4 separate regions of the Homo sapiens genome follow, and regions 1, 2 and 4 are each linked to region 3. The links come from fine-mapping of genetic effects on gene expression. A gene starts in region 3. Each other region holds a variant in brackets. All regions are shown on one strand. Distances are between the middles of the regions.

Region 1 (8,106 bases), 68 kb after region 3:
TAGAAATTCATTTTTAGGTAACTGGTTTTTCAAAATAGTAATCCTATGGAACTGAACTGTCTACTTGACTCTGACTGCATTTAAAACAAAAATGTAATTTTTAATTGATAGGAGAAATAACCCCCTTAGAGAGCTGGGCACCAGCTTTCTACCAACTCTCCAACCCACGAGCTGAATCCCAGCAGCTCCGTCCCAGGGGAAATGAGTGCTTTTCAGTCTTATTTTCCCACATTAGAATGAAAGGGGATCATTTGAGAGCCTCAAAAATAAATTTGAGTAAGCAGGACAAAAACTTTAAAACTGAAGCAGTTCCCTAAAAAGAGAGCTATGATCCTCTTTACTGCTGCTTATTTCAGACATCATAAAGCAAATATAAATAATGCTTTCTCCTTTAAAGTTGAGAGCAAGCATTGTAACCTGATGCCTGGTTAACTAATTTGGAAGTGAAAATGCGGGTTTTTACAAGCAGGAAGGGTGTGCCTTCCTTTGAAAGCATGTCCCTAAAATGTCAGTGGTGTAACCATATATTCTGGGCTGTTCAGGTCACTGCAGTTCTCTCTGGGACGTTTACATGGAGACTTTTTTTTTTTTTTTTTTTTAACTCTTTTTATTTGACAGAGAGAAGGGATTGGCTCTTCTCTGATTTTAGTGGTTTGTTGTGTTTATGGTTAACTGTGCTTTTATGAAAAGAGACACCATTCAGATTACAATGTCCCATTGGTAGGAATTGTGTGTGTGTGACCCAGTGGGCAGATTTAGCCTATTTGAAATGGCTCTTTTGAAGACAAAGGGTGATTGTGATTCTAAAGTAAATATTTGACCATTTTCTTTTTTGCATAGATAAGACAATTTTGATATCCACAGCTGTCCTGGTTTTCAAATTAGGATGTGACAGTCCTAGTTCCAAGGTTTCCCTCTAACCATCTGTGTAACAAATCATCCAAGCAATTCACTTAACCTTTCTGATGTCCAGATTACTCCAAAGTATAACAGGAGACGGGATTAGGACCGTGTTTCCCAAAGTGTGGTATATACATGACTCTGAGTGTTATGTGGACATGGCAGTAAATGAAACGAAACCACATATTGAGAGAGTTACTATATTTTAAGTTGTATTGTATTCCTTGTGATAGAGTAGTTGAATAATCAAGGAGGAAATTTCAATTTAGTGCTAGCAGGTGTCTCATATCTCTCTAACTCACACTGGCCTCCACTTTTAAGTAGGAGCGTCAGGGATCTCTGTTTTAGGATTTCCTGCAAGCAAAGTGACCAGCTAGAATCTAACAACATGGTTCTGTTCCCAGTCTATTTAGGTTTCTTCTGGTTTTTTTGTTTGTTTGTTTGTTTGTTTGTTTGTTTTTGTTTTTGTTTTTACGGGTGATATTGGTTTTCCATTTATAGTTATACTTTCTTTTGAAATAAATGCATCCAAGTTTCCAAAAAACTGAGTCAGTATTAAAAACAGCATTGAGTAAATAACAGTGCAAGAATATAGCACAATTCCCAAGGTGTGCATAAGTAAGGGGAGATACTGGATTCAAATTATCTTTAATGTTCCTCCTTTAATTCTCTGAGTTTCTATATTTAACAAGAAGGAAAATGTCTCTTGCAAGTCGACTCAACTGAAGTCTAGCAGGCAGCTTGTTCCTCTCTCTACAAAGATAAACATGCAGAGACTTTTGTGCAGCATCACAGATGCCTGGTCCAACTCCTCAGGCTCACACCTTTGTTTCCCTGTTTTTCCAAAATGAGACGGGAGAACAGAAGCTGTGAGCACGTGGACACCTGCTCTGGCTCACTGACTTAGAGTCATTCTTGGTGTCAAGGATCACTTGCATGGGCACATGGAGATGAAAGTATCAGGTTCCTGCAGTTTGGAAGAAGGAGAACTTCTCAGCTCTTTCCTGGCAGCTGAGCCACCCCAGATGATTTGATCTTAACATGGTGAGCAGAGTGAGGCAGTCAGGATAAGGAGCAGGCACCTTTAGCCTGCCCAAGGCTTGGGATCCAGAATTCAGAGCCTTTGGTAAGCTCTTTTGGCTGTCCGCAATCTTAGTAGAGACTCACCTTAGTAGAGACTCACCTTAAATCTCTCCAAGGCTGTTGTGGTTAAAGTTCAGGCGAGGGCTATAAAACCAAATGAGAGTGTATTTAACGAGAAAACTCAGAGTCATGGGCTTCAGAAATCTTAAGGAGCAAGGGTGACTTTTTCCATGCCATTGTCTGTGTCTATTCAGGTTCGATATTGCAACTCCCTGGATGAGGAAGAGAAGAGGGAGCTGAAGCTTTTCAGCAGCCAGAGGAAACGCGAAAACTTGGGCCGCGGGAATGTCAGGCCTTTCCCAGTCACCATGACAGGAGCTATTTGTGAACAGGTAAGCATGGATTCAGGGGAGTGAAGAGGCATTGTTCTGGCATCTTTTCACCCATTCATTCATCCAACAATTGTTTTACTGAGTGCCTACTATGTGCCTGAGATACAGTAGTGAACAAAAGACGGGAAAGTTTCATCTTGCCCTTCTAAGGAGTTGGATTCTAGGGGAGGAAGTCAGACAATATATGTAATCAACAAAATAGAAAAAGATACAGCAAGGAAGGAGACTTGAATGTACTGGAAGTGTGGGGAGGCTGCAGTTTTAAGGAAGGTTGATGGGGAAGACCCCACTTAGAAGATCTGAGCAAAGATGTGCACAGATGTGCAAGAGGGAGAGAGTCTTGCAGATTTTAGGGCAGAGGGAATGCTAAGGCAGAAGGAATGACCGGCTTAGAGGCCCTGAGACAGGAGGGTGTCTATTATGTTCAACAGTGAGTTGGCCAATGGGCTGGGGCAGAGGGAGTGAAGGGAGATAATTCAGATAAAGTCAGAGTTCTGGGTGAGCCATTGGAAGAATTGAGCAGAGCAATGGCATGATGGATTTATGTTTTAAAAAGAGACCTTTAGAAAATGGAGTTGGCTTGGGCCATGGGTCAGCCTCCCTCCCAGGATCATCCCAGAACGAGAGCCATTTAAAGGGGAGGTAAATGATCTTCTCCTGAGAATTGAGAGTTCCTTATTGAAGTGCATGAAGCCCTTCCGAGTCATGTTGACAGGAGCTATTTGTGAACAGGTGAGAGTGGGTTCAGGGGAGTGAAGAGGCATTCTCCCTGGGACCTCACTGCGTTCAAGATTCTGGATTTCCTGTCTCCTCTGCTCCTGTTGAGTGCTCAGGGTGTGGTGAAGAAGAGTTTTAGAGACTGCAGGGTGGGAACACACCTTGCCCCACCTCTCAGCTGCCACAGGCTTTCCAGTGCTGATCGTCATTCTTGGTACTTCTCTAAGTCCTACAGCTTTTTGAACATTCCTATCTAACTCCTTAAGCTCTGCGTAGACCCCTTGAGAGCTGAAGATATGTTAACTGGATCAAAGAAGAGGAGGTGGGATGCTGCCCAAGGGAAGCAGATGTCATTTGAGGCCCTTTTTTGAGATTTCAGAGGGGTAGAGTGAGAAGGTTCAGTTATATGGGATGGGGTAGCTAATTGACCAGAGATTTGGCAGTGGGATCTTTATTCTTATGAAGTATATCTGGGACCCACCCTTAAGGTACAGGTGGTCAGTGGTTGTGATCTGAGATTCACTGTGCTCCATCCAGGCAAGGTGAAATCCTTGCTCCTCTCAGATCAGTCTCCTGGAACCAGGCAAGCTGAGTTTGCCTAAGGGAGAAGGAAGGTTGGGCATTTTGTGGGCAGGTGCCAAGAATTGTGTAGAATAGTGCCAAGAGTGTGAAGGCAGAAAGAGCTTTCATAAGTTTGACTCATGTTTCTTCCAGATGACCTTGACCGTGTTACTTTTCCTTGGTTTTGTCATCTATAGAATGGATGAATGATGACTC[ATG/G]TGAGGGTTATATAGGATTATGTCTGCATGCTTTAGCTCTGCTAACATTATCACGGAAGGTAAGGATAACATGATGCCTTTCTTTTGTCCAGTCACACACGTGGATGAGTTCCCAGAGACTGTTTGTGAGGTCTTTACTTCATTTTCTAAGATACATTTCAACGCATAGCATGGGAAAGATTTGGTGGTAGCTTCTCTGCTCTTTAGACATTGTCCCCTGAGCTCAGCCACTCTTGTATGACCCTAGAACTATACTCAACCTGTGAACCTCAAGGCCCATGCCATGGTCAGCAGAAGCATCTCCCTAGACCTACTTTCCACATTTTATTCTTCCCTCAGAGTCCCTCAAACCATATTCTTTTTGTCCCAACCCCAACTGTAAGCATAGGTGGCCAGTGATTCTGCCTTGTTTCTTTTAGGATCAAGAGGGAACTTGAGAAAATGAGTGAGAAGGTAGGGAAGGGATAGGAAGAAACCCTTTCCATAGTTTGGCCTTAGAAGTGGTGCCGTGTCAATCAAGACTATGTAGAAAGATGTTAGAGGAAGCAGACTAAAAGCATGCCTGAAAGGCACACAGAGAAGGTAGTTAAAGGTGAGCGTGCTGTTATGTATCCACCCTCCCTCCCATATAAAAGTATAGGTCCCACCTCCTCCAAGCCCCGTCCTCCCACCCACCTCCCTCCCCAGCCACTCCTGGTGGTGTTAAACCTGGCTGTGTCTCTGCATGGAGTTTAAAGTATCTAAAAGATAATGAGGCTTTCCTCTGTGCCAGTTTGCCTCCTGCCTGCAGAGCCCCTGTACGTTATTGTGCTAAAAGAGCTTTTCTTTCTTTCCCACCTTTGTGATTCCTCATTCTCCCAATGACTTTCTCTCTACATTATTTGTAAGCCTTAGGAAAGGAGAGTTCAGGGAGGACAAGAAAAACCTGCCCTGCTGCCTGTGTAAAGCAGGAAGCATAGTGACTGCTTTGAACATAAGCACTCAGTAGCCAGCTAATGGTGGTTGTCCTTTATCATTTATGCACAGCACTGGGAGATGGGGGCTAGTGTGACTACTGATGTTTCTGTTTGCCTCACAGTGCGGAGGCCAGATCAATGGTGGAGACATCGCTGTGTTTGCGTCACGCGCTGGCCACGGCGTTTGCTGGCACCCGCCGTGCTTCGTATGCACTGTCTGCAATGAGCTCCTGGTGGATCTGATCTACTTTTACCAAGATGGGAAGATATACTGTGGCAGGCACCATGCTGAGTGCCTGAAGCCGCGCTGTGCTGCCTGCGATGAGGTTAGAGCAAACTCCAGCAGGTTTACCTGCCCATCACCCCTTCATTGCACCATAGCCAACACATGGTCTTCTGGCTTTCTGCACTGAAGAAAGCCATAGGCAACTTCATTTTCTTGCATTAACCCTTTTGGGAGAGAAGCCCCACCCATCCCTGGTTTCTAGAATGTCTGGGGTTGCGGCCTGCTTTACTGAGCGTGGAGGTCTCATAGCTTCCTGTTGGGAAGGCAGTTTCTGTATCCATGAAGATCCCCAAGTGACATATAACTGGCCCTAAGTAAGTTCAGAACCCTAAAAACAAAACAAAACAAAATTGCATTGTGCATCTTTAGATATTAACCCTAATCTCATGGAATAATCAGTAATGGAGTGCCACTTATATCTTAAAATTGTTTCATTTTCCAAGATTCACTGCTGCAAAATGATTAGAAAAGAGAAAATAGGTAGCATTATTTGATTTTTCTACAGTTTATAAAAGTTCTGAGTGAAAAAAAAATTCAGGAGGCAGATGGATACTTCATTTGGATGTCTCTGCCCCATGCTCTAAGAAGTACCCTATGTAAGAAAGCAGGATAGAACGCAAAACCTCTGCCTGGCCTTCTTCCCCTACTAGAAGCACACCCTACCGTGTAAGCTGACAGAATAGAAAACCTGGTTTAGCTTTATAAGTTGGGAGCAGAAAAAAGAATGTTCTAAATCTGACCACTTTTATGGGAATAATTTGGGTAAAAGTCCTAGACAGAGGTTTCCTCCTGTGCAAAGGAGTTTTTTGCATCTATCTTTCTCTGTAAATAGCAGTGTGGGAGGTAAGTAACACTCCCCTTTTTCAGCCAGACAGCCTACTGTTACATGGGCATTTCTTTCTTACAAACTACCTACGAGGGACTCACTTTCTAGGAGGAAGCTGATCAGGCTCAACTAATTTGAATTCTAACACTAATGGTGATGTTCTGGAGAGACCTTCTAGAAAGATAGCTGGAAAACTAAATTCAGGTCCAACTCTGTGGTTCTAGAACACCTTTTGACCTTCATGCCTCAGTTTCCACATCTGAAAATTGGTGCTCAGAATACAGCTTTGTGTTGTCTAATGGCAATTAGAATATGATTGAAGCACACACTTTGAAATTTGTTTATTGAGATATAATTTGCATAGCATTAAGGACCCTTTTAAAGTAAATAATTCAGTGGATTTTAGTATATTCACAAAGCTGTGCAACCATCACTGCTGATTCCAGACCATTTTCATCAACTAAAGAGAAACTCTTTATCCATTAGCAGTCACTCCTCATTTCCCCCTTTCCCTAGCCCCTGGCAACTTCTAATCTATTTCTGTCTCTGTGGATTTACATGTTCTGGACATTTCATATAAGTGAAATCATATGTGACCTTTCAAGTCTGGTTTCTTTCGTTTAGCGTGTTTCCAATGTTAATCCATATAGTAGTATATGTAAGTACTTCATTCCTTCTCGTGGCTGAATAATATTCAGTTGTATGTATGTATCACATTTTGTCTAGCCATGTATCAATTGATGGACATTTAAGTTGTTTCCACTTTTTGGCTACTCTAAACAACGCTGCTATGAACATTTCTGTGTGTACATATATTTTTAGTTCTCTTGAGTGTATACCCAGGAGTGGAATTGCTGGGTCATATGATAATTCTAAGTTTAACTTTTTGAGGGAATGCCAAATTGTCTTCCAAAACAAGTATAACATTTTACATTCCTGCTATCAATGAATGAGGATTCCAATTTGTCCACTTTCTCACTAATACTTGTTATTATCTGTTTTTTTTTTTCATTATAGCTATCGTAATGGGTATGAAGTAGTATCACATTGAGGTTTTGATTCATATTTCCCCAACAGCTAATAATGTTGAGCATCTTTTCATGTGTTTATTAGATATTTGTGTATCTTCTTTTTCAGAGAAATGTCTGAAAAAATTTTTTTAATTTAAATTTTTTGACTACCTTTTCAATTGGGTTATTTTTCCCTTTTTTTTTTTTTTTTTTTTTTAAGACAGAGTCTCACTCTGTCACCCAGGCTGGAGTGCAGTGGCATGATCTTGGCTCACTGCAGCCTCTACCTCCCAGGTTCAAGCAATTCTCCTGACCGAACCTCCTGAGTAGCTGGGATTAGAAGCATGCACCACCATGCCCAGCTGATTTTTGTATTTTTAGTAGAGATGGCGTTTCACCATATTGGTGAGGCTCATCTCAAACTTCTGGCCTCATGTGATCCACACACCTCAGCCTCTCAAAGCACTGGGATTACAGGTGTGAGCCACTGTACTTGGCCTATTTTTCTCATTATTGAGTTGTAAGAGTGATTTGTATATATTCTGTATACTAGTCCATCATCAGATAGATGATTGGCAAATATTTTCTCCCATTCTATAGCTGTGTTTTCACTTACTCGATGATGTCCTTTGAAGCATAAAGTTTTTAATTTTGATGAAGTCTACGTTATTTTTTGTTGTTTATGCTTTTAGCATCATATCTAAGAAACCATTGCCTAGTTCAAGATCATAAAGATTTACACCTGTGTTTTCTTCTAAGCGTTTTATTGTTTTTTTGCCCCTAGCTCTTTAAACCCATTTGAATTAATTTTTTTTTCTTCGAGATGGAGTTTCACCCTGTCACCCAGGCTAGAGTGCAGTGGCACGATCTCAGCTCACTGCAAGCTCCGCCTCCCAGGTTCACGCCATTCTCCTGCCTCAGCCTCCCAAGTAGCTGGGACTGCAGGTGCCCGCCACCACACCTGGCTATTTTTTTTTTTTTTGTATTTTTAATAGAGACAGGGTTTCACTGTGTTAGCCAGGATAGTCTCAATCTCCTGACTTTGTGATCCACCCACCTCGGCCTCCCAAAGTGCTGGGATTATAGGTGTGAGCCACCGCACCCAGCCTTGAGTTAATTTTTATGTATGATGTAAGGTAGGGGTTTGAATTCATTAT
Region 2 (8,106 bases), 220 kb before region 3:
ATTCCAGGCATTGTACAATTACATAGGGGCATAATTCCTCCTCCTCCTCCACTTTCTCTTCCTCTCCCAACACCTAATGAACACTAGATTCTAGGCATGGTACAAACTTTTAAAATAATCCATTTTCGGGGGTGAGAGCGCCGTTCTATAGCTTGATTGTGGTGGTGGTTACAGGTCTGTACGAATTTGTCAAAACTGGCAGAACTGTGCACTAAGAAAGGGTGAATTTACTGTATGTGGATTATACCTTAAACAAACTCAACCCTCATCCTTCCATCTCCACTCCCCTACCCCAGCTACAGCGGCAGGGGGGTGTGAAACGGTCCCTGCCCCTAGGCTGGGGACAAGGGTGAGGGACGAGCCTTCAGGGGCGGGACCAGGTAAGCGCCGGGAGTTGTGCCCAGTGGGCCTAGAAGCCAGGGAAAGGGAGAAAGTGGCCCCAGCCGGGTGCGGGGGAGGGATGGGAAGAGCCGGTGGACCGCGGGGCGAACCCGGGAGGGCGGGGGGATGCCGGGAGAGAGGGAGGGACCTGCGGGCGTGGAGGGAGAGGCAGAGGGAAGGGAGGAGGGGTAGGCGTGCGCTCCGGAGCGAGCCGGGGACTGCAAGGCGGAGACAGCCAGGCCAGCGGCCGCCGAGGGTGCCCGCCCAGGCTACCCGCCCTCCCGGCCGCGGCGCGGACGGACCGACGGACGGCGCTGCGAGCAGGAGGCGTCCGGCCATGTTCAGCCGGAGCTCCCGGAAAAGACTCTCCAGCCGCTCGGTGAGTGTCCCCCGCTCGAGCGGGGCCGATCGCCGGGCACCTCCAGCCGGCCGCGAGCGCCCGCGCGCAGCCCCACTGCGCCCCGCGGCTGCGCACCTGTGGCCCCAGGTAAGCCGGCCCCGCGGGCGGGGCGCGTCCAGGGCGCGAGAGAGCGCTCCAAGGCGCGGGAGGGGTTAAGTTCCGACCCCCCGGCTGGGCGACAGTGAGACCCGAACCGTGGCCCTCAGGGTCACAGTCTGGGGGATCCCTGGAAAGCCCCCTCCCTCCGGGCAAATCGGAATCCCAGCACCAAAGCTCCAGCGTCCAGCCACTTGGAGCTCTAGCGGGGACTTTAGGGCCGTCTTTTGGGGTGTCCTCTGCTGCCCCCTTTCCGGGAGCACCAGCCCGGTCTAGGGCGGGCGCCCGATGCTCGCTTCTTGCGGACTCCAGGGAACTGAAGGGTCTTGCTTTTGTTTCTTAGAAACCCGTGACCAAGGTGTCTGGGGGAGACAAAGCCCCAGCCGTGGTCATTTCGTGGTGGTGTAGTGCCCATGCCGGAGGCAACCTGCCTGGGTCCGCGCACCCTTCCCCAAGCAGGCGGGAGACCACCCCTGGGGCACTGGCAGTGCCCCGCCCCGTGTCCCCCATACAGAAGAGGAGCAGTTGGCTCAAATCACAGGAGGTGGGGTGGGAGGGGCAGGCCATCCTGCCAGGGACACGAGTGGGGCTGTGGAGGGAGACCCCGTGGTGGAGACATGCGTGTGTTGTCTTTTTGTTTTGAAGTTGACCGGACTGGGGCGGATAGAGCGAGGCCAGCCATGTAACGCCTGTGGTGACCAGTGCCCTGGGTTCGCCTTGCATAAATGGAGGTAGGAAGCCGTAAATGCACAACACTACAGCAAGATAAAATATGCAATATGTAATATACATACATATATATATCTATAGATATATATATATTCCCCTCCGCCTTAAATCTCACTTGTAAGTCACATGGAAAGAATGCAAAGGCTGTTTCTTTAAGAGCGGAGCTACATCTGCTACAAATATTGGAGGTGGAAGTGGTGGCCAGACACTGGGAGATGCAGGAGAGCCGGGCTCAAGGCTGCGTTTCACTGATGTGAGAACTGTGGATCCCTAGCACGGGCACTATGTGTCTAGGTAACTCACTCCAAAACAATTCACCCTGGGCAAGGCAGTGTTGCCAAGTGCCACAGTGCTGTATGTGTAGGATTCCCTGGACTAGCTGGTGTTTTCCAGTTGTGTTTTTAATTCAGCGCCTGTAACTCTGGGTCCCAACCGCAAATCCATTGCTGCCCGCCTGGGCCGTGTCAACCCTCTGCGGCGGCCAGATGTTTCTTATTAAATGTGCCTTGAGTGTTGACTTCCAGGCAGCCCCAGCTTGGATTGGAATGATTACGTTTGGGAGACAAGGGAGCTGGTTGCCCTCCCAATGCATCTGGCTGCTGGGGCTCTGGTTGGGAAAAGTTGGGGTGCAGGCTTACAAGCTGTCAGTTTGCTGGTTTCAAGCAAAAGGTGAATCCTCCCTGGCGTCTTCATAAAAAGGAAAAACTGGTGACAGGAGAAAATTGTGCAATATCATAACACATTCTCTCTTGGATTAGCGCATCTTTCCCCCTTTCTCCACCACTCAAGCTGCTTATGAAGAGGGCTTTTTCTGGATGCTAGGCAGAAAAGCCTGCTTTGATTCCACACCCCGCCCCCCGCCCCCCACCCCCACCGCATTAGTGCATCTCTACTTTTCCCCATTTGTAATGTGTGCTGGGCACCCAGTTATAAGAAAACTCCCAACCAGCTCCTTCAGAAATTAAATGCTTTTGTTCCTGCTTCAGATGGGTCTGGCAGCCTCTTTGCCTTTGTTTCAGGGCACTGAGCGCAACCCTTATGGCTCCCGAGCATTTAATAACTTCTGTGTCAGAGTCAAGGCGGGCGACCTTATAAATATGTAATTGGCAGACATAGACATTCATCAGTGGTACCGATGTGGTAGCCCAAATAGGTGTGCTGTAGCCCAGCCCCTTGTTTGTCCCAAATATGAACCTGGGTGAAAAAATGAGAATAGGTGTAGAAGCCTTATTTTGTAAACCAAATCCAGCATGACAAAACTACTGAGTGCTTCCTTTCTGATGCATCTTGTGCTCTAGTGGGGGTGGGAGAGGCAGAGTAATGAACAGCAGAGTAAGTGATTTCCAACTTTCCTTTCCTCCCCTACTCTGCAGCCCTTGGGTCAACTTCTGAACAGGGGCTTTGTGGGGCAGTGGCGCAGGGTGGGTGTGTAGCCTGACTTCTCTCCTTCACTGTGTGATCCCTGATCACCTGTCTGTCACTACTCTCCCTAGTTCCCAGTTTCCCTACTGTTAAGTGGGCATAATAATGGCATTTAATGCAGAGCATGATTGTAGAGATTAAATGAGATCTTGAAAAACACATGCTTTGTCCAGTCCCAGGCATATCATAAATATTTGCTAATTTTGTTAATGATTTTTAGCATCCCCTCAACCACTGCTCAGGAGGGGACATAACTAGTGTATCTGGGGATCCTAGGGGTCCAGGGCCACTCTAGACCTTCATGATCACAGCCTTTTGAAGAATTTTAAGCTGTTTTAATCTAGCTGATTTTGCAAAGGGAAAACAAGTGTTTTATTTTCAGCCCATTATGGAACTATTCTTTTGGAAAGAGACCATTTCAACAGGCTTTACAGATTTTCATACTGAAGCAATTGCCCTACCCCAGCAGAAAGACCACTTTGGCTCCATGAATAGGGTTTTTATGGCACTTCCAGCCATTGCTGGGAAGGCAGCAGCTGCTTGCTCTTATCCCCTCCTTTTCCCCATGGGCATACTTTTGGGTGACCTTTCGGAGAAGAGAGACAACTATTTCTGGGTTACACAGCACGGTCTTCTTTTTGGCAGTTTGAAACCCACTTTACACCCCTCTCACTGGGGCAAGCATGAGCCCCTGGGAGAGAGAGTTGGGCCTGGGTAGGAAGAAAAGGCAGGCCTGACACAGAGGCCAAATGCTGCCTTTCGTCTGACCCAGGGAGAACGGAACTGTTCTCACCCCAAATACCAAGGAACCCTAAGATGATCACTTGTTGCCCTTGTTCACCACATCATCCCCTTCACTGGCCTCTCTGGTCCCCTTCCAGTACTTTGTCCACACAGCAGGCATCTCTTAAAAACAGGATAGAATTGTGTTACTGCCTCCCGGCATGACGGCACTAAAGTTCTAGGGAGGAAGTACGTTGTAAACAAACTTTGCTTCTCTCTGACGTGGTGGGGCTTTGAAGTCCAGACAGAGCAGGGCTGGCATTTGCAATGGCTTTAGCAAGCTGTGTGACCTTGAGCAAATGACTTAGGTTTCCTGAGTTCCGTCTTCCTCACCTGTCAAATTG[T/G]CAGCTCTCTAATGAACAAATATTTGAGGGCTTGCTCTGCGCCAGGTGCTCTGGTGACACAGCAAAGAACAAAACAATATTCCTGCCCTTATTCCACTAATCACATTTTAGATAAAGTAGTCAGGAAAGGATTCTCTGAGAAGGTGACATCTGAGCAGAGACCTAAATGAAGCAAGGGAAGAGTATTGTGCTCGTTCGCACCTGGTGCAGGTACCAGCAACATCAACATCTCGTGGGAGATTGTTAGAAATGCAAAGTCTCTGGCCCTGCCCCAGACCTCCTCAATCCAAACCTGAGCTTGAACGAGATCCCTGGCTGCTGCTGTTACGCATTAAAGATTGAGAAGCACTGAGTTAAAACACCCAGCACTGTGTATGGCAAATTACTTTTCCTACGTCGAGTCTTCCTCTGTGTCAGGAAAGATGCCCATGGTCCTGTTGAAGTCTTGTATATTTTATGGGGATTTTCTTGAGTGATCATATACCCTTTACATTTTTGTTGTCACCCACACTTTTAGGTAGCAAATGTGGGGTTTTTTAGAATTTCTAAAAAGAACAAAAACAAAAAAACCAAAAACCACCAAGACACAGGTATTTATGGGTCTTAGAGTACAAAGGTCTCACAATTGTCAGCAGGACCTTTCTCCTCCACCTGATGTAAGGCAGCTGGGGAGCAAAGGTGGCCACTGCAGGGTGCTCCCTGCAGGTGACCTATCCTGGAAGAAACATCACTTCAGGGTGGCCTAGGGGAGACTCTGTAGGGCTGGGCTGCTGAGGAAATTTTCATTAAGGAAGATTAGGGTATCTTCATGGACTGCAGCCAGAACAAAATCATTAATAACTAAGCACTTAGCTTACCCTGCTACAAGATAGCTTTCTGAGTGGGGGTTAATTGGCCTTGCTTGTTTGCAACCAGTTTGAACAGGGAGAGAAAAACAGCCATTTTTACAGTGAAGATTTGCGTATCTACATACCAAGAACTGATGGATAATAATAGTAATAATTACAGTAATACCAAAACAGCATCAGCAATAAGAACGAGTGCTTGCTTTGTCCGGGATCATGCTTCCGTGTTTTACATACATTTTAATGTAATCCTCACTAAACCCTATAAAATAGATGTGATTATTTTCCTGGTGAGAAAACTGAGGCTGAGGGTTGTTAAGTAACTTAACCCAAGGTCACCTGGCTAGGGAGAATGCTGCTGGGATTTGGCTCCAAACCAAATTTGGCTCATTTTCTTGTGAGTCACTGCCTCTTGTTACTTGCTCTAAAGCAGTGCTCACAAACTGGAAGCCCTTGAGTCAAATCCAGCTTGCAGATAGGTTTCGTTTGATCCATGCAACATATTAAAGAAGGAGGCTTTTTCTAACATAAACCCAGGTTTCCGGCTTCTGTTGAAAAATCCAAAGACCAGGTAACATTAGGGCTACTTTCCTGCATTTCCGACAGTATCTGGCAGGAGCTGAGTAGTTGCCCCTTAGATGGGCGTGACCTCAGTTCACCATCCTCTCCAGCAATCTAGTTGAGTTCAGGGAACTCTTCAAATATTTAGGTTACCTGTCAGGGACTGGAAGTGATTGAAGCTTGCAAATCCTGAATGAGCAATCTCATCTCCCCCAAAGAGAAAGTAAGCTTCTCTATCAGCTACCATTTTAAAGCTTGACAATGCCAGGAAAGTGTTTTACATCTTTTCCACCTTATCATTCATGACAGCCCTAGAAGGTAAGTGCAGTTATTTACATCCATTTTAACAGGTAAGGAAACTGAGTCTCAGAGGAGTTAAGTAATTTGCCTGTGGTTACACAGCCAACTGCTTAATGGTATTTTGTCCCTATCTGACTTCAGAAGTCTGTGTTCTGGGCCGGGACTTCTGAAACTTGCATACAAATTACTGAGGGCTCTTGTTCAAAATTCAGATTCTGATTCTACAGATTTGAGGTGGGGCCTGAGATTTTACATTTCTACCAAGCTTTAAGATGATGCTGTGAAGCTGGTTGAGGGACCACACTTTGAATAGCAAAGCTCTAGACTGGTGTCAGTAAAATACAGCCTGCTGGCCCAATGTGACCCTTTTCCTGTTTTGTATGGCTCATGAGTTACATTTTTAGATGGTTGGGGAAAAAATCAAAAGAAGAATGTAATATTTCACAACATATGAAAATTACATGAAATTCAGATTTTGGTACCCAGAAAAAAGTGTTATCTGAACAAAGTCATACTCATTTACTTACATCTTATCTGTGGCTCAGATATTTAGGTTACCTGTCAGGGACTGGAAGTGATTGGAGCTTGCAAATCCTGAATGAGCAGGTTTTCGTGCTGCAGTGGCAGACTTAAGTAGCTGCAGCCGAGATTGTATAGCCCAGAAAACCTAAAATATTTAGTATCTGGATCTTTACAGAAAATATTTGCTGACCCCTGGTCTGTATCACTACCTAGGGGAACATGCAAATAGCTTCTCTTAGTTTAGAATATAGGGATCTGAGAATCTTTTGGAATCAGGGCTAGAGGAAACACCCCCTCCAACTCAGATGAGAATGGTGGTAAAATCAAAGGCAACCAAAGAGCTAGGGAACAGACCAAAGCATTTTCTAAAGGGCGTGTGGAGATGAGCCTTGCAAGACAAGATCAATGAACCTCCAGTGGATTCTAAGCCCCTTGTAATCCCTTTAACGTTTCAGCTTTGCTGATAAATGTAGATTCAACTTGAGCATTAAAAGATGGGCTTTCCTAACAAGCCTCCTGGAGTCCCACTTTCATGGGCAACTGACATGGAATGCCCAGTGCAGGGGTAGTGTTGTGAGATCATTATAATTATGCAGAGTTGTTTGTCTCCAGACAACGGCTGCCTTTCCAGCCGGGATGCTTTGGCCGGGATGCAGTTGCTGCAGAGGCAGCACTCACTGGGCTAGCCAAGACTGCGACTTGAAAAGCCTCCCTCCTTAGTTGCCTGGGCGATTGTGTTGATTGATGACTGAGGCAGCAATTCGGGGTGATGCCGGCCTGGTTTCCTTTAATGGATTGTAATTTGGCTAAGAAATGGGTTCCCACTGATTATTTTGCTTGGAGAGGAAAAACACTCTGCCTCAGTCACTGACATGCCAAGAAATGGAAAACAAGGAAAGGCGTTTTAGGGGGTGGGGGTGGGGGGAAGCATAGATTGAGTTATTCCTAACATCAAGGCAGGGAAAGATACTTAGCTGATAAGAAGGTTGCAGGTTGGCTCACTTTATGTCATTGGCATTTAATAATACCCCTGATAGAAGTTGAAATACCTTACAGGGTTTTTTTCTCTACAGGAAATATATCAGTTTATGCCAGTATATCTGTATTATTACTTGTTTTTGGAAATAGACATAACTATTTTAAAAGATATTAAAATATCTCACACATGTGCAGAAATTAAAAAATACATATCATAGAGGAGGAACCCCTTCTTTTTCATACCTTCTAGACCAGGGGTTGGCAAGCTGCAGCCTGTGGGACAAAATTAGCCTGCTACCTGATTTGTATGGCCTGCTAGCTAAGAAGGGTTTTCATATTTTTAAATCGTTGAAAAAAAAAATCAAAAGAAGAGTAACATTTTTGTAGCATGTAAAAATGATACAAAATTTCAATTTCAGAGTCCATAAATAAAGTTTCATTGGAACACAGCCATGCCTGTTCATTTAGTAACATCTGAGGCTGCTTTTGCAGTAGCAGAGTAGTTGAGACAGCCCTTATGGCCTGCAAAACTGAAAGTATTTACTATCTGGCTCTATACAGAATCAGTTTGCTCACCCCTAAGCTAAAGATATATGTTGTTTATAGGCTGATATTATTTCCTTAGGTTCATTCAGATTATTTATTAATATTGCTTTAACAGAAAATACACATTCTACATATTGCCTTTTATAGCTTACTTTTTTCGTACTTAGAAATACTTTCTGGACATTTTTCCATGTCAGTA
Region 3 (8,106 bases):
ATTTAGGACTATCATAGTTTTTTAAATGTTAAACATTCCTTTGTTTAAAGGCATTATGTGTTTAATAGATTGTATTTTGTTTTGTTTAATGTTTTTACATAGCACAAATTAAAATGGACAGCTATGGCAGACATTACTGGGGTCCTCCATTGTCTGTTTTCCCTGTTCTTTGTGAGCATACACTTCCCAGCCTCCTTGCAGCTGGGTGAGGTCATGAGACTAGTTTGACCACTAGAAGTGATATCATTCATCTCCAGGCTGAGGCACCTAAAAGCCTCTTCAGTTCTCTCTTCTGCTGTTGTTGTAACTTGGAAATTATTCACTGAGATCACAGAGGCACAAGAAGGAAGCAGAGTAGATCCCTGAGTCGCTACTTAGAATGGAGTACCTGGAAAACCTCTGGGCCTCCAACCAACTTTGCCTGAGAGAGAAATCAAACTTTCTTGTGTTAAGCCATTGACATCTGGGATCATATGTTACTGCATCATCACCTATGCTAGACCAACTTACATGACAGTTCTTTGTCAGCTTCCTCTCCCACATTTACTTTATTAGACTTTGAAATCTAAATATCAGGATTACTCTTGAGTAAAATATTTAAAAGCACGCACACACAGAAATGCACACATTTGAAAAGGGAAACCTTATTAGATGAGTGGTTTGAAACTTTGGTAATATCCCTTACAACAATTAGAATTTCCCAATAGCAGGGCCAGAAGGTAGTAATCTAAATGAGCTAGGATGAGTGATGTCTGTCTTTTTAAAGTTCTCCAAAAACTGAAACACTGCCATTTCCTTGAGTGACCCATGTCAGTTCTTATCTCAATATTCAGAAGTCTTCCTTAGGTCCAAGAAAGATTTTAAATGACCTAAAGAGGAATTTAGGACCCTCTTTAGGTCGTTTAAATCCATTCCTTCTTATTTTATACCTGTAGAAACAGAGATTTAAAACTTGTTCATTGCAGCCTTCCTCATTACAGCTCTTCATCTAGGAGGCTACCACCCTTCCTGTCACTTACCCTTCCCTTCTGTAACCTGACCAGTAGAGATGTACTTGACCTTTCCCTGTAATCCTCTAACAAGATGCTGCCTAAAGCTGGCTAGAATGGAAAGATGATTTGATTTTCCAGCATGCATGGAGCTGTCTCTTTGTTATTACCTGCCAGTGTCATGTTGCTGCTGTTTTGCTGTCTTGTGTCCATGCAGATGTCTCTTAATTATGCATTTGTGTTCATAATTTTCCTTCCTACTCATGTTCTTATTCCTGCCTGGAACACCTCTAGCAGAAGGTGAATTTGACTAAGGTCAAATTTTTGCAGCCTTTTTCTACTTCTGGATTTTGTGTCATGCTTAGTAAGGCCTTCCCCCACTATAAAATTGTTTTTTAATTCCAAAAAAGTAAAAGCGTTTTTGACCTTGGGCCTGACCCAGATCATACTTTTCCTGGTTCCTGATCACCTCTGCCATAATTAATTTTGTCTTCCTTGTCCTTTTTCCTATATACTATATGCAATTATGGTCATTTGTATAAATATCCTATCATTCTACCTAAACAGAAAGTTCTGAAGGTCGACAGTTGCATCCTTGTCTCCTGACAAGAGTGTCCTCCGCTTCACAAATCCCTAATAAACATTTGGTTGAGTTTCTCATATGTATTACCTGTTCTTCCCTGCCTTTACTCGCATGAAGTTTGCTGTCATGAATGTGGAATTTCACTGTTTTTTAGAAAAACAATATGAGTTTTGTTCCTATTTACTAAGTCTCTGAAATTTTTAAAGTAGTTTTTTCTCACTTTTTCTAATACCTACCAGTATAATTTGTAAAAAAAAAAACACCTCATTAGAATGGTCTCCAGGATGAAAATAATGACCACAGGGAATTAACAATCTGTGGATTTTGTAATTTTAATATTCTGTGTAAGTGTGATGCATAGATATCCAGCTTCCTCATCACCAAGCTGAGCTCACAGAGCGTGTGCTGGCAAAAGGACTTGGGCAGCATGCTTTTGTGCCATCCCTCTCTTGAATGCAATTAGGCCTTTGAGGACTCTGCATGCCTCCTGCCATAACACACACCCCATTCTACTCTAATTGCCTACTTAATTGTCTTCTCTCTGATTGCCAAGCTCTTTTAAGGCAGGATCCATGTGTATCTTGGTCACCATGTTGTCCCCAGACCCTAGCACAGTGACTGGCAAATAGTAGGAGCTTATTTAATGAGTGAATGGATATATGAATGAATGGGTGAAGCATGTATTCATCTCAAAAATATAGTTGTCTTGTCCTGGTGTATAGTTTCAGAAGAGGGAGCCCGCCTCTTGGTCATTTTTACTCCTTTATTTCCTAGATTCATAGCAGTTCAAAGCATTTGTATTGTATCATATGGAAAATGGCATATCAGTGGCTCACCCACATTAGATAGAACTTTGAGATATGCTCTAGGAATAAAGATGATTTTGCAGTCTTCCCTTTACCGCTTTCTCCCCACCTTTTGAATTTTAACTGGTTACTTAACTAATTTGCGCTGAAGTTAATGGTGGAAGCATGATTGTTTCTATTAATATTACCAATAGCTAACACTTATTGAGTGTTTGCTATGTAACAGGCTCAGTGTTAAATGATTCACATTAATGCTCATTGGATTCTCCCAATGGCCCCATGCAGGTAGGCACTATCATTATGCCCTAGGTTACATATAAGGACCTCAGGCCTCAAGTCATAGACCTAGCAAGTGTCACAGCCAGAGTCTGACCCCAGGCAATCCATTTTAGACTCCATGTTATGATGTTAATTCTTATGAAGTTGGTAGTGATGTGTCACATCTGTTCCAGGTGAAGAGTAATCTCTTGCTATGTTTCAGCTGTCTTCTTTATTTCATTGTTGATCACCTGTGAATTGCCTCTTATATGACCATGCTGATCATGAGTAGATGAGAGAGTAGTGTACCCATTTTTAAGAAACTGAGGCATGGAAAGTTGAAGTGACTTGTTCGTGGCCACACTGGGTTAGAATGTCACTGCTTCCACTTGGCTACTGGGGGCCCCAAACTGTTAGACTTGCTAATTGACTTTTTGAAGGATATTGAGGTCTGGGGAGACCATCTGCCTCCCTACACGCTCTGAGTTCTGTGTGATGGAAACTGAAGGCTGAGTGTTATTCATTTGCTTGTATTTTATTTCTCTTACTGAGAAGTTATTCCAGGTCTCATGATTTTCACCATGAAAGGTCTTCTGGGAACTAGAGAGAAGCATTCTGAAAGAAGTTATTAAGCATTATTAATACAATTACATACAACAAAAGACATAATTTAACTTCCCCACATCCAACAAAGAAATTCATTTGAAGCTTCAGGAACTGCAGCTGGAAGGGCAGAGCTCATCAGAGTGGGTTCCCCAGGCGGGGGAGTGTGGGCAAGGAGCCGTGCTAGCTGCTTTGTCCTTTGGGACACTTCTGTGCATGATGGAATATTCCTCCCTCCCAGCCTCCCCAACCTTTCCCTCACCCTTTACTTTCACTCACAGTGCTTCCTTATCACAGGCACAGAGTCCAGAATATTGCCTGGCTCTTGCCTCTCTCCTGGCCCGGGATACTGCACAGGCAGCATTGAAGGAATATATGATTTTAAACAATTAAAGATGACCATGGAAATACTCAGATGCTAGGAACAGTGATCAGCCTAGTAGATAGTATGCCTCGGTGAATTTTTCTAACTTCATTCAAAATATCAGAAATAGCTATTGAGTATGTGATATTGTGTTAATCTTCACCATAGTTCTATTCAATATTTTACTTTCTTTAATTGCAGTAGCCCATAAGGCCCTTGAAAGCAGAGACTGTGTTTATACCTAGCCTTTAGAGCTGTGCATGGCATAGAGTACGTGCTTAGTAAATATTTATTGAATGAGTGAATGGTACAGATGAGGTTATTGAAGATCCCACAAGTTAAGTTACTTGCCTAAGATCACACTGCTAGCAGGAAGGAAAGGCAGGATTTGAACACAGGGCTCTCCAAATGTATAGATTCCTTTCTTCCAGATTGCTTGGTTAGGCCGCCTAGTGGTGTATAAAAATGGAGCTCGGAGACCCCAAAGGTATTCAACAAAAGCTCTATCTGAGGTCTAGGAAATGTGGATTCTGACCCATCCTTGCTGAAATCCTGGTGTGACTTTAGAAAAGTCCTTTCTCCAGTTGTCTCCATTTTCTAATCTGTAAAATGAGGAGATGGAAGCAATGCTCTCTGAGGGTCTCAGGGTCTTCAGATGCCCTGGGAAGGTTTATGCTTTGTCTTCTTCTGCATGCAGTTGGAATTGGGGTAAGGGGTTAAAGGGCAGCTGACTGACTCACCACCCAAGCACGTGAGGAAAGGAGTCACTTGTGCTTTATTTCGAGGTGCACAAAAACTCAAAGGTGACATAGTCTCAGGCCAAAAAACAAGCAACACCCGAAAATGAAAGTTGAAGAGAGAAGAGAAAGAAAAAAAAAAAGGAGAGGCATTTTTGAAGGCTTGACACAGCATTTAATTAAAAAAAGAGTGCTCTGATTCCACTCCTAGGTTGGTGCAGCATATAATCTGAAACAGGCGCTCAGGTTGATAATTGTGCCCAGATCTGAACCTTGGCACCTAAGAGCACAGCTTTTAAGAAGAAAAAAAATAGGCATGTGTCTTTAAAGCCTCTCTTCTTATATGTGATTTTTTTCATGCTCATTTGGAGGTTACGTAGCTGGGCCTTTGCATCCAGCAAAGGCTTCCTTCCCCTCTCCCTGGCTTGGGGATTATTGATTTGGAAGGCAAGGCTAATTTACATGTAAATAAATCTCAGCACTGGGCAGCAGGATGGGACGTCCAGATGCCGTGACTGACTTGCTGACATCACAGCTTCATTAGCATGCGGAGGATGCAAGCACTGCAACAGCGACTTCTCAGGCACCACCAGCAGCGCCACCGAGAGTTATTATTATTTTTTGACCAAGCAGCACATTTCCTGGTTCAGTGGCTTGAGCTCTGTGAGCAGCTGACTAGTCACCCCGGGTCTGGCTCAGGATCAGCTGGTGACGCTGGGCTGGAGTCTATGACTTCTTCCTTCAGATTGTCATGAAGAAGGGGAGTTAAGAGGAAACTGGGGGTCCTCCGGAAGGCGATCTGAGCACTCAGGCTGATCTAGAGGAAGAGTAGAAGTCATACTTTTTTTCTCTTGCTTGGTGAATTCCCCAGCAGAGTCTGGATCCAGCAGTGCTGTTTTCCCTGAGGGAATGTGGAGCAGCTCGGCTTGAGTCTGTTGCCAGCTTCAGGAAGGGTTCAGACTGAAAAGGGGGTTTGAGGAGAAGATGCTTTGGCTGCCTGAGGTCCTGCTTGCGTTCTTAGAAGTCAGATCCAGGGAGAAAGTGAACTGGGACAATTGACAAGCTCCAAGGGTCTGGCAGAAGCTTCCTCCGAGACTGGGCATTTCATCCTCCCTGGAGGTGGGTAAGAAATTTGCTCTAATTCACAAATTAAACAGCAGTATATTTTCTAAGGAGGATGAGAAAGCCAGATCTAGGGCCTTTGCACTGGGGGAGGATATTGGGTCTTCGTTTTCTTGGCCAGGTAGCATTTTTGGTGGCCCTGCGACCCCTTTTGCCTTTTCTATGCTGATTAGAAAGCTCGATTACAAAGTGTTATGTCACAGCTCTAGGGAGTCCTGAAGAAACGCTTAAATCTTGATGCTTAAGAAGAAGCAGCGTTTCTCTAAAAGTGTAGCTTTCTTTAAAAAACCATAATAATATGGGGAAAGGGGCTAACAGACCAAATACCTGATAGCGTTCATGTACAGTAGTCATTTCAACACATGATGTCAGAAACCATTAGGGGATCTGAGGAACAAGGACTCAGCTGAGACTTCCAGGTAAAGAAATGGCTTTCAAATTATTTAGGTTTAATTTTAGACACTGCTTTCAGATTAGAAATGGTGACAGAGCTTCAGAATATGACTGCATAGCCTGGCTGAACACATGATTCGGTTTGCCCTCTATGCTGGGTTTCTTGAGGGAGTGATCATAGTTAGTTCTCCTCACTCTTGGCTTCTCGAAAACCAATCATAGCATTACTAATTTGCCATGGGGGTCTTGCAATGAAATACAGATTTTTAATCCCATGGTTTTTTGTTATGTGGTCTTGGACTATGCTGGGGTCCAGTGGGACTTTTATGAATCATAAATAATCCAGGCTGGGCCAAATCACACTGAGGTTAGCGATCCATACCAGATGTGATGCCATCCGCTGGTCCAAATGTGGCTCTTGTCTAACTTAGGCACATAGATTATTTCCCCAGTGAGAGAGTTCTGCTTCCCATATCAATGCATGTATGAGCACAGTCAGGGGAGGGCTCCAGTGTGCCATGAATATGTAGACATAGACTGCCGTGTACTGAATCTGCAGCTGGTAAGGCTGTGATTTGCTTTGCCTGCACATCTCTTCCCAAAGAGTGTTTTAAACCATCTCAGTGAGACTTAAACTAAATGAAGCAGCCTTGCCTCTTTGCTAGAGGCCAAATTGGCTGCTGTAATCCTGCTCCTCAGAAGGCTTACTGCCTGCTGATGGCTTTCACAGATGGGTCAGGATGAGGGTCCCCAAGGGCTCCAGAGTAAGTCACAACTTTGACATAATTACCATATTTTGGAAATTTGGATTTTAATGCCTTGAGTGCTTATAAAGGTTTTGCCTTTCCATCAAATGCTCCTTCCCCTTGGGAATTCTGTTTTTCATGTGAAAATTAAAACATACTGGCTCCATCGGGCATCTCAGTCTATAAAGATTCACGGGGCAGCCAGAAAGAGTAAAATAGCATTGTTTGAAATGGTGTGTTTATAAAGATTTACCCATGAAATGTGAGGGAATAAAATAGAAATAGAGGAAGAAAGATGCATTTATGGAAGCTTAAAGAATGAGAAGGGAACTTAGAGGTTAGATAGTATGAGATGATATTTATCCAGGGCTCAGACTCTGGAGCTGGAAAGAGCTGAAGATACTTAAAGCTACCCATTCCTGCCAGTAAAGTGGAGAGAGCAATGGAATCTATAGTTAGGGTGATAGGTGTAAGGATTTAATGAGATGACCTATGCAGAGCACAGTGGCAGCCACATAGTAAATATTCAGTAAATATTAGCTGCTATTGTTGTTGTTGTTGTTGTCATTGTTACCATTTTGTCATTATCATTATAAGTGTTGTTGCTAAAAAACAGTATTGAAAAGGCAACATGTTCACATCCATTTGCCTGCAGAAAGGTTTTGCTAGCAGAAAAGATGCCATCTCTGGTACTGTTATATCCAAATGATTCCCACTCAAAGAAACTTTCCACCCTATTGATTGAGTTGACAGAATAAAGTATATTATCCAGAACTACTGTATTTCACAGAACTGAAAGTGACCAGCTGGTATAATGAAAATCATTTAGAACTAACTGGGGCTTAGGCAGCCTTAAAGAAGGCATCCTGTTTTGGCAGCTGACAAGTCACATGTAGAAAGCTGCGGGGTCCCAGTTGGAATCAATGCATTTCTAGATTTCTCTTCTGCTTCACCTATGCATGTGAGAGACAGTCCTTTTCTTTCTTAATTCTTTTCAGTGCAGATATTGAGCATTTTCTTCTCTATCCAGGGAGGCCATTGAATATGTGCTTAACCTGCTGGTTGGCTCCTCAGAAGTTCCAAGGCTGAATTTTTGCCACCATCTGGGTGCCTTCAGCTTATGGGTTGGCTGCTAAGGGAAAGGAATAGCCCTCCCCTGCCTGCCTGCCTACCATGGCCCAGTCTGTCTGCTTTTGTTTTGTGTCACTGCTATGGCACAATTTTGCCAGGCTCGTGGTCTGCCTCCTTCATGCCGGTGGGCCTACTTCTGTCACACAAGTGGACTGCTGTTTCTCCCTTTCCTCCCAAGATCTTTCTTTTTAATTTTGGGGAATTAGAACTCTGACACAGGGATCTGAAAGACAAAAGTGAATTACAAGAGTGAGAGGAGTCTGCCATAAAATTCTTTCCCAAGAAACTCGGAACTGGGAGTTGGTCGTTCCTGGTTGCTACTGATCTTTAGTAGAGTTGTGTTTTGCACGGAGAATAATATTTATACCTTAACC
Region 4 (8,106 bases), 41 kb before region 3:
ATCATATCTTCAGTTATTGGTTCTTCCTGATTTCTCTGGTCTCTCCCTATGGGAGTCCTATTACACAGACGTTGGGCCTTCTCATTATATTCTCCATATCTCTTTATCTCTCAGATATTTTTCAACTCTTTATCCTTTTGTGCTTTATTTGTGTAGTGTCGTGAGATCTACGTTTCTTGCTTTACTAGTATCTATTTAACCTGTCCTTTGAGTTTTTAATTTTAGTGGATCTATGGAGAGGAGTAGTCATCATGTCTTGTTCTTTTTAAGGGTTTCAATTTTAGCTTCAGTGTTTTAAATCCTTATAAACTTTCTCATTCCATGTTTCTTTTCAGAATGTCAATTGTTTTATGACCTGTAATTCTTGAGCCTCTTATTCTTTTATTTGTTGACTTGTAACATCAGTTTCTTGGATGTTGTATAATTTACCGTTGGGATCTCATGCTTGTGGGATTGGTTGTAGCCTGGGTTGTAGAAGTGGCCAGAGAAATCTTCATTTGTTTCTATAAGGCATTCCTGGCATGTCACGAACAGGACTAATTTTAATATTAATTTTTTTAGTCAGAGCTTCCTGATTTTGACTTTTGTTATTCCTAGAATCTCATGAAAGGCACAGCCCTAGGATTTCTCATTCTCAGTTAAAACATTTCCCTCTCACCCACAATACAGGTAGAGACAGACAAGTTTTACCTAGGTGGTTGTCAATTTTTCCAATCTATTTGTTCATTGAAGGTGCAGCCCTCAGTGAATATTTTTGGCTTTCTACAAAGGTCTTGTAACAGCTTCCTGCTTCTCTTTGTCCCAAGGCACTGTCTGTCTCCTGTGTGGGCATTACAATCCTAGCCCCTAGGGAACCAAGACAACCCTTTTGTCTGCCACCAACCACTCTTCCCTCTCTCTCATAGCCACAGCATAACTTTGCATGCTTCTTACTCTTGTTTTTAATTACCTCTTTATTTCTTGGTATTTTCCTGTGGTTTTTTTTTTGTTTTTTTTGTTTTTTTTTGTTTTATGTAAGGTCTCATGCTGTCACCCAGGTTGAAGTAGATTGGTGCCCTCATGGCTCAATGTGGCCCTGAATTCCTGGGCCGAACCAACCACCTCAGCCTCCTAAGTAGCTAGGACTACAGGTGCACACCACTGCAACCAGTTAGTTTTTTATTTTGTGTAGAGATGGTGTCTTGCTATGTTGCCAAGTCTGATATTGAACTCACGGCTTCAATGATCCTCCTGGTGTGGCCTTCCAAAGTGTTGGGATTACAGGTGTGAGCCATCGTGCCCAGCCTTCCTTTCTTTATTGTGAGTCAGCTAGGCATTTAAAATAATTTTTGTTATATTTTATCTAGCATGTCTAGGTATTTGAAGAGTTGGAATTTTCAGGTTGTCATCATTTGCCATTTTGCCAGAACCAGGACCTTGTTACAAGCTCATGGTAAAAGGTTCAAATAATATACAAGGACATATGATGAAACGTTAGTGTCCTTATCCTCTTAGATCTGCCTAGGCCTCAAATCACCTTGTCAGTAACAACAACCTTTATCATTTTCTTAGGCATGGTTCTAGAAGTACTTTTTGCATATACAGCATATGTATGTGCACATACGTAATACATGAAGATGTTTTGTGCAAGCAGAAATATGTTTTACTATCTGCACTGTACTTAGCAATGTATTGAGGAGCTCAGTGCATACTGGTGCACTTAGTTCTTCCTCTTCTTTCTCATGACTGTATAGTATTCTATCATATGGATGTATCATAATTTACTAACGTCCTGTATTATTGGATAATTATGTTTTCAGTTATTTTGATCTTATAAACTATCCTACAATAAACATTCCTTTACATATGTCTTTGCTTGTATATCATTTAGCATAATTCACTTCGTCTGTTTCCTTCTCTCCCCTCCTCCGCCTGCCACCACTATGGGTTACTTGTGGTCAAGGACTTTATCTTTCATTGATGATCCTAGTACCTGGCATGGGGCCTGGCACTGAGCTGGCACTTAACTCACGTTTGTTTCATTAATAACTGTGCTCACTACAAAGTCAGATCAGCAGTCAGACTCAGTCCAAATCTCCAGCAAATGTATTTTAATTGCAGTGATAACAACAGCTATTGACTGTTCAGTTGTCCGAGGTTATTGACTGAGTGCCTCCTCTGGACTAAACATGAGCTCATGCAATCTTTACTACAACCCTATGAGATGGTAAATTTCATGATCATGCTTTACAGACAAGGAAACTAAAATGCAGGTTACCTACCTGTAAGAGGGAGAGTCCATATATGAACACAGTTTTGTGTGAAATTAATGCCTGGCCTTTTGACTACTCTCTTAATTAACAATTGTACTGGCATAGCCAACATGGGACATATTTCCATTGTTCATTCTTTTGTGTATTCATTCATTCAATCAATAAACAAACATTTACTGAGAGCTCACGACGTTCCAGGTAGGGAGTGATATGTCTTGATAAAAACATTCCTACCTAGGTAGAATTTACAGTGTAAAGGGAGTGACAGATTAAGCAAAAAAGTGAAAATGTGATGAGTGGCTGAAAAGAGACATAAGCAAAGGCTTTAGGAGCACCAAGAGCAGAGAGCCACGAAGGCCTCCAGTGTCTGTGATAAACTGGATGAGCCTTGAAGGACAGCAGTGGGTTGAGGGGGGCACAGGAGGGGTGAAGCCTAGGATTCCAGCATGCCCCCTGTTCCTTGTGTGCGTGGCACAGTCGAATCTTTCTCTTCCAGCCACTGCCAGCTCTCAGGACCTCTGGTGTGAGGGCCAGAGAGCCTGTGTCCTTCTGCTTTTGAAAGGTGGCTCAGCACTCCATTAGCCCTTTCTAATTTTAAAGTAGTAGCTCCCTTGATTGAAATCTCAATTTGGGAACAGGCCTAGGATTGGCCTGTGGCTCGAGATTTTCACCAATAAGCTGAGTGGGAGGTGGGGAGGTGTCCCTTTAAGCAGCCGGGAGGCAGCCCAGAGAGCTTGGAGCTCCTCTCCCCAGGACCTGAGCGATTTTCCTGGATCCGGAGCTGCGCACAGAGCAGCTGCCGCCCCAGGAATGTTACCTGCCTTGTGCGGAGCCCCTGCAGGGCCCCCTTCGGCTCCGGGCAGTTGGCTGCCGACGCCCCGCTGGGTTCCTTAGCTGCGGCCGCTACCCCTGCCCCTGGGTCTCCAACCCCCTTTCCCCGGCTCCCCCGCAGTTTCCCGGGCCGGCAGAGGCGCCGCAGCGTCGGAGCAATGCAAGGCTAAGCCGGGTAAGTGGCCCCCCCATAGCCGGGGAGCACAGAGGGCGGCGCAGGGGCATGTTTGCTCCTGGTTTCAGGAGCTCCCCTGAAAAAGGGGCCTTGCAGCTGGAAACTAAGCTCTGGGAGAGATGCGCTTTGCCACCCAGACGCTGGGAAGTCAGGAGCCCCGCGGTGGGGACCTGGTGAACTGAGGGTCTGAGTGTCAGCCACCTTTCGCGCAGCCACTTTATTAACCAGCAATGGTAATCATAATATCACGAGGCGATGGTGGTATTATTGTATTAGGACTACTTAAGAGGGAACATGAAAACATCCCTGGACTTGCTTTTTAAATAGCCTTTATTCTCTTAGAATTCATTTTCCCCTAAATATTTAAAAGGTATTTACTGTTAATGACCTAGTTATTTTCTATTCAAAATATTTCTTAACATCTCCAGGAAGATCTACTTTAAAACATGACTTACTTCTTCCCACATACCTTTATATTTTGAGCTTATATCCCCGAAAAGATAAAAGTTGTTTATTTTCCCAGAACTTTAAAAATCCATTTCTTTGCTTCTTGGTGGACTTCGGTAATGAAGCAACTCTGGATTTGTTAATGTGTTCTTTCTGAATTGGGGTAGGTGGAGAGGGCCCTTCTCCTAGCCCTTCCTAGCTCTACATGGGGGAGTGTATAGTTTGGAGATGAGAGAGTTAATTCTTACTTTCCAAGTTGCCAAATGCACCCTCTCAGATGCTGGAAGAGTCAGGACTTGGTGAAGGTTGGGATTACAAATCTGGAGTGCCTGGGCAGCCGTGCCCTGGGAAATTTTAAAACCAAAATAATCAGGAAAGATTGTGGGTAGGTGCTGGGTAAGATTTAAAAGATGAGGTTTCAGCTCCCCCCACCCATCTGTTCACTTGTGTGTACCTAAGCAAGAGGTTGAGAATCGAATGCAGAGGGTCAGTTTACTTTTTTTTTTTTTTAAGATGAGGCAGCTGGAAGACATGCCTTCCAAAATTGGAGCAGAGTCTGATGTGTGGATTGCCAAATTCCATTTCCGCCCATATTAAATTATTTTGGCTTCTAGAAGCCCTTATTTTGCTGGGCCGGCCTTTATTTGCAGTTGTTTAGGTGGTGTGAATCATTTGTATACTTTGAGTTCCCTGCTTTCTGTAC[G/A]CAAATGTTTTTATCTGTGCAGCTAGTTGAGTAATTAGAGACATGGACATGGCCCTGTCTGTACAGACAGAACAAATACCACTTGGGGAAGATCTGGGCCTTTCCTTTTCAAATCATCAATTGCCAAATCTTCCCAGCCTGTTGGGCAATTCAGATAAAGGTGTCAAGTGAGCTGGGCAGTGAAGAATTTATATATGCAGCTGATTCTGCTCATCCTACAATAAAGCATCTTCCCATGGGGCCAAAAAGTGGGGGTTAGGGAGGCATATAAAAATGATCCTGTGTTCTTAGTCACTGACTACCCAGCTCTCTCTGGATTTCTGAGAACCTGCCAGGAGAAACTGTTGACTGGATGGAAGTTTCAAGAAATGCAGAACAGAAATCAGGACAAGCCCTCCTTGAGCAACTTTTATTTCTGTTTGGAGGAAAGGAACACTTTGTTAGAATAACAAATTGTGGCTGCTTTTCAAGACCAGAAAACCGTTCTTCTTCTGAAGGCAGATTCGTTTTAAGAGTGTGAATCATTTGGTTTAGCTTTTTTTTTTTTCTTTTGCGGTGGAGGCTTGGAGATGATTAAACGTCCTGTCTGCAGGAAATTACCAGGAGATTTGAGTATTTTCCTGAATCAGCCTCAGATGGTACACAGCTTTGGGTGTAATACAAGAAAGCTCTGTTACAAGGCAGTCTTTCCTCAGTGATACCCTCAATCTCACACAGGCTTTCAAGCCTCTGCATCAACAAGCCTTTTATTTTTTATTTTCGGGGTTGTACTTCCATTTAAGAAACTGAAATAACTCTCTCATTCCCTCTGTGAGCTTAAGATGGAACTTATTTTTGAGACAGTTTTATCGAGCCCACTTCCCCACTAGCCTCCTCCCACTTAGCTTCAACAGGAAAAACTCTTGGCTTCTTTTCCCAAGATTTCTTTTAAGCCAGAATTGTTATCCTTAGGGACACAGATGTGTCGAGGAATGAGAGGTGCAAAGGTTTGAACTAGCACTCACCAATTTGGTGGTGACATTTATGGTCTTTGTGGAGCTGTTTGCAGAGCAGGCTAAGTGGTCTTGTGTTGGGTTTGCCCTGAAGTACATCAACAATATAGAAAATGGGCAATGAAAAGACGGTAAGAGGCAACTGAGGGACATGCGTGCTGCTTTGTGTAGCTGTGTATGCAGAGATCTGTGGGTTTTTAAAAATAATTTAGAAAACCAAATCTCAGAGATGCTGTGCTCCCCAGGCTGTTTTTCTTAATCTTTCCTGAAAAGTACTCAGTCACATTAAGCACTTCCTATCACTATCATAAAGTAGGAGAGCGCTAGGTGAATATAAACTCTGTGCGATATTCTGATGTCAATGAGAGGAAGCAGAGGGAATGATTTTTTTTAGCTACTAAAACACAGAATGGTAATCCTAGTTGAATATAATGAGACTTTATGGAAATTGTATTGAGGTTTAAATGTGATGTTCCAAAAAAGTTTCTTTGATATTTTTTATTTTCTCAAAATCTGAATGGTGAGGAATTCTTTTCTGGGATACTTAGCATTTGATTGCCATTCAGTTTTTTTTGTTTGTTTGTTTTTTGTTTTTCTTTTTGCTTTGTTTTGTTTTGTTGGTGATGTTTTTTCATATCCTGCTCCTCTGTGTGACCAGCAAAGGAAGGCTCATTTTTGCAAAGATTGTAATCTGGACAACTTCCAGAAGAATGGAAGATGTAGGGGTAGCGGAGGGAACAGACGCAGGTACTGTGGGACTCAATGTCTGGGAAAACTCATGAATGATCTCCCTGCAAGATTAGCCCAGAGGCCTTTGAGAATTGCTTCATATTTGACTTTTAACAGCCAGCCTGTGTAGAGAAATCCTTGTACCTATCACTAGGGTCTCTCCCTCTTCACAAAGCATCTTCCCAGGCAAGATGCCAATCCACAGGGAGCGTATACGTGACATTGCTTATCACATCTTTCAAAGGTTGCTTCTTACTACTTTTTCTTTAAAACAGCTACTATTTGATCTCTTGGGAACATTTGCAAAAGGTTACTCTGCATTCACCCAGGCTGCTGTAATTAGTCACTGGTTTTGTTTTATATTTTCTGATGATTGAGGCTCTGTTCAGGCTTCTGGGGATAAGCAAACATCTGTTGAGTTGGATGTTAGATAAATTCTAATTTTGAACACTAAGTTGTCCAGGCTGGAGAAGAGGTCTCATCTTGCCATATTATAAATGATAACATCAGTAAACAGAATGATGCCTGTTAACTTACTGAGCTTTTGCCAAGCACAGACTTAACGTCTTACCAGTCTTTCTCAGACTTTATAGTGCATAGGGATATCCTTCAGGGAGTCTATTTCATAGGTCTGTAGTATGACCTGGAAATCTGCATTTAAGAAATATCCAGGTGGAACTCTGGACTTTATCTTGAGAAGCACGTCGCTGTTTGCTCTTTATTACTGAAAAACCCTTACGACAACCCTATGAGGGTTGGTGCCATCAGCCAGCCTATTTCACAGATGATGAAGGATAAGCTCAAAGAGGTTTGGTAACTCCCCTGAGACACAAGGCTACCAAGTGGCCATGCGGGGGACCTGGACCTACAACTGTCTAATTCCAAGCATCTACCTGGGATGCTTCTTAAATGCAGCCTGTGCTCTCAAGCATTTGCTCTTGGTGGATTGTTGGCGGGTTGTGGAGTGGGGGGTGGGGTGGGCGGTCTTCTCTTTATAATTTATACTCAGTAACCACCCTTCCCACTGCCCTGCCGCCACTCTGCCGAAGCCTGCTTCTCTAGGATGCTGGCATTCTGTAGACAGCAGTCCATGAGGTCCCCATTTAGACAATCCACTGTGATGGAATTGAGGGAGACCACATGGGGCAGAGGCCCTCGTGGCAACAACTTGAGGAGTGTTCAGCTCATTTGCCTTGGGTTCTTTAAGTTCTGAACCAAGATGACCCAAGATAAGGCTGATTGACTGTGAAGTGCTTTTAATTCCTGCAGCTTTTGGAATTCTTAAGACAGTTATGTTTCCATCAAGGGCCCTTTCTACCTGGATGTAGGTGCCACTTTCTTGCCTCCAATCCATAATGCCTCCCACAGGATCCTTTCACAAGACCTCACCCTACACAGCCCCAGAAAGTTGAAGCCATTTCCTAATGCTCAAGGCCTGAGCTCACTTGCAGCCCTTCCTGCATTCTCTGTATATCCCCCCATTCTGAGTGTAATCCTGTGGAAAGTGAACTCAAAGGGAATATTGTAAAGAGGAGAGGCAGAGACTGAACAAAGCCTCATTTAAGCTTCTTGCCTGATTCTCCCTTGGCCTGACCTGATTTCTCCTAGTCTTTGGGGCACATGGACCAGGAATGATTTTTCTTGCTTAATTGCTGCAGAATTGTGGATACAGGACAGACCACTTAACCTCATGAGCTTCAGCTTCATTATCTGTAAAATGGTATGTTCATGTCGACCCTTTCTCCTTCGGGTACAAGTGATGTAATGTCCAAGAAGGCACTTTGGACTTTGTTTAAACACATTTTGAAAACTTACTCATGTTGCCTTCTAGCAGTGGTTCTCTTACTGTGATATTGGGAATACCTGTTTGGTGAATTGCTCTTCTAAAAAAGAAAACAAAAAAAGGCGCCATGTGTGCGTGGAACATACGATGTTTTACATCTCCCTCTTGAGCCATCACAATTCAAAGGCTATGAG

Evidence for each region.
Region 1: its variant is fine-mapped to the expression of PRICKLE2 in thyroid (GTEx, PIP above 0.99). The same link has a PIP of 0.9 or more in adrenal gland, caudate, esophagus muscle, lung and tibial nerve.
Region 2: its variant is fine-mapped to the expression of PRICKLE2 in pancreas (GTEx, PIP above 0.99). The same link has a PIP of 0.9 or more in stomach.
Region 4: its variant is fine-mapped to the expression of PRICKLE2 in liver (GTEx, PIP above 0.99).

The regions. Positions count from the first base shown.
Region 1 is chr3:64,154,209-64,162,314 of GRCh38, reverse strand. PRICKLE2 (prickle planar cell polarity protein 2) reads left to right here. Exons shown (of 8, transcript NM_198859.4): 4 at 2,238-2,375; 5 at 4,950-5,153. Among named protein-coding and RNA genes, the nearest start is that of PRICKLE2-AS3, 29 kb to the left of the region's middle. RefSeq lists enhancers at 4,488-4,988, 4,989-5,490. The variant ATG/G (reference allele first, on the strand shown) is at 3,870.
Region 2 is chr3:64,437,985-64,446,090 of GRCh38, reverse strand. PRICKLE2-DT (PRICKLE2 divergent transcript) reads right to left here and starts at 834. Exons shown (of 4, transcript NR_183714.1): 1 at 684-834. The variant T/G (reference allele first, on the strand shown) is at 4,156.
Region 3 is chr3:64,222,263-64,230,368 of GRCh38, reverse strand. PRICKLE2 (prickle planar cell polarity protein 2) reads left to right here and starts at 4,903. Exons shown (of 8, transcript NM_198859.4): 1 at 4,903-5,459. RefSeq lists a silencer at 4,722-5,016.
Region 4 is chr3:64,263,051-64,271,156 of GRCh38, reverse strand. It overlaps a transcript of PRICKLE2 not described here. Among named protein-coding and RNA genes, the nearest start is that of PRICKLE2, 42 kb to the right of the region's middle. The variant G/A (reference allele first, on the strand shown) is at 4,409.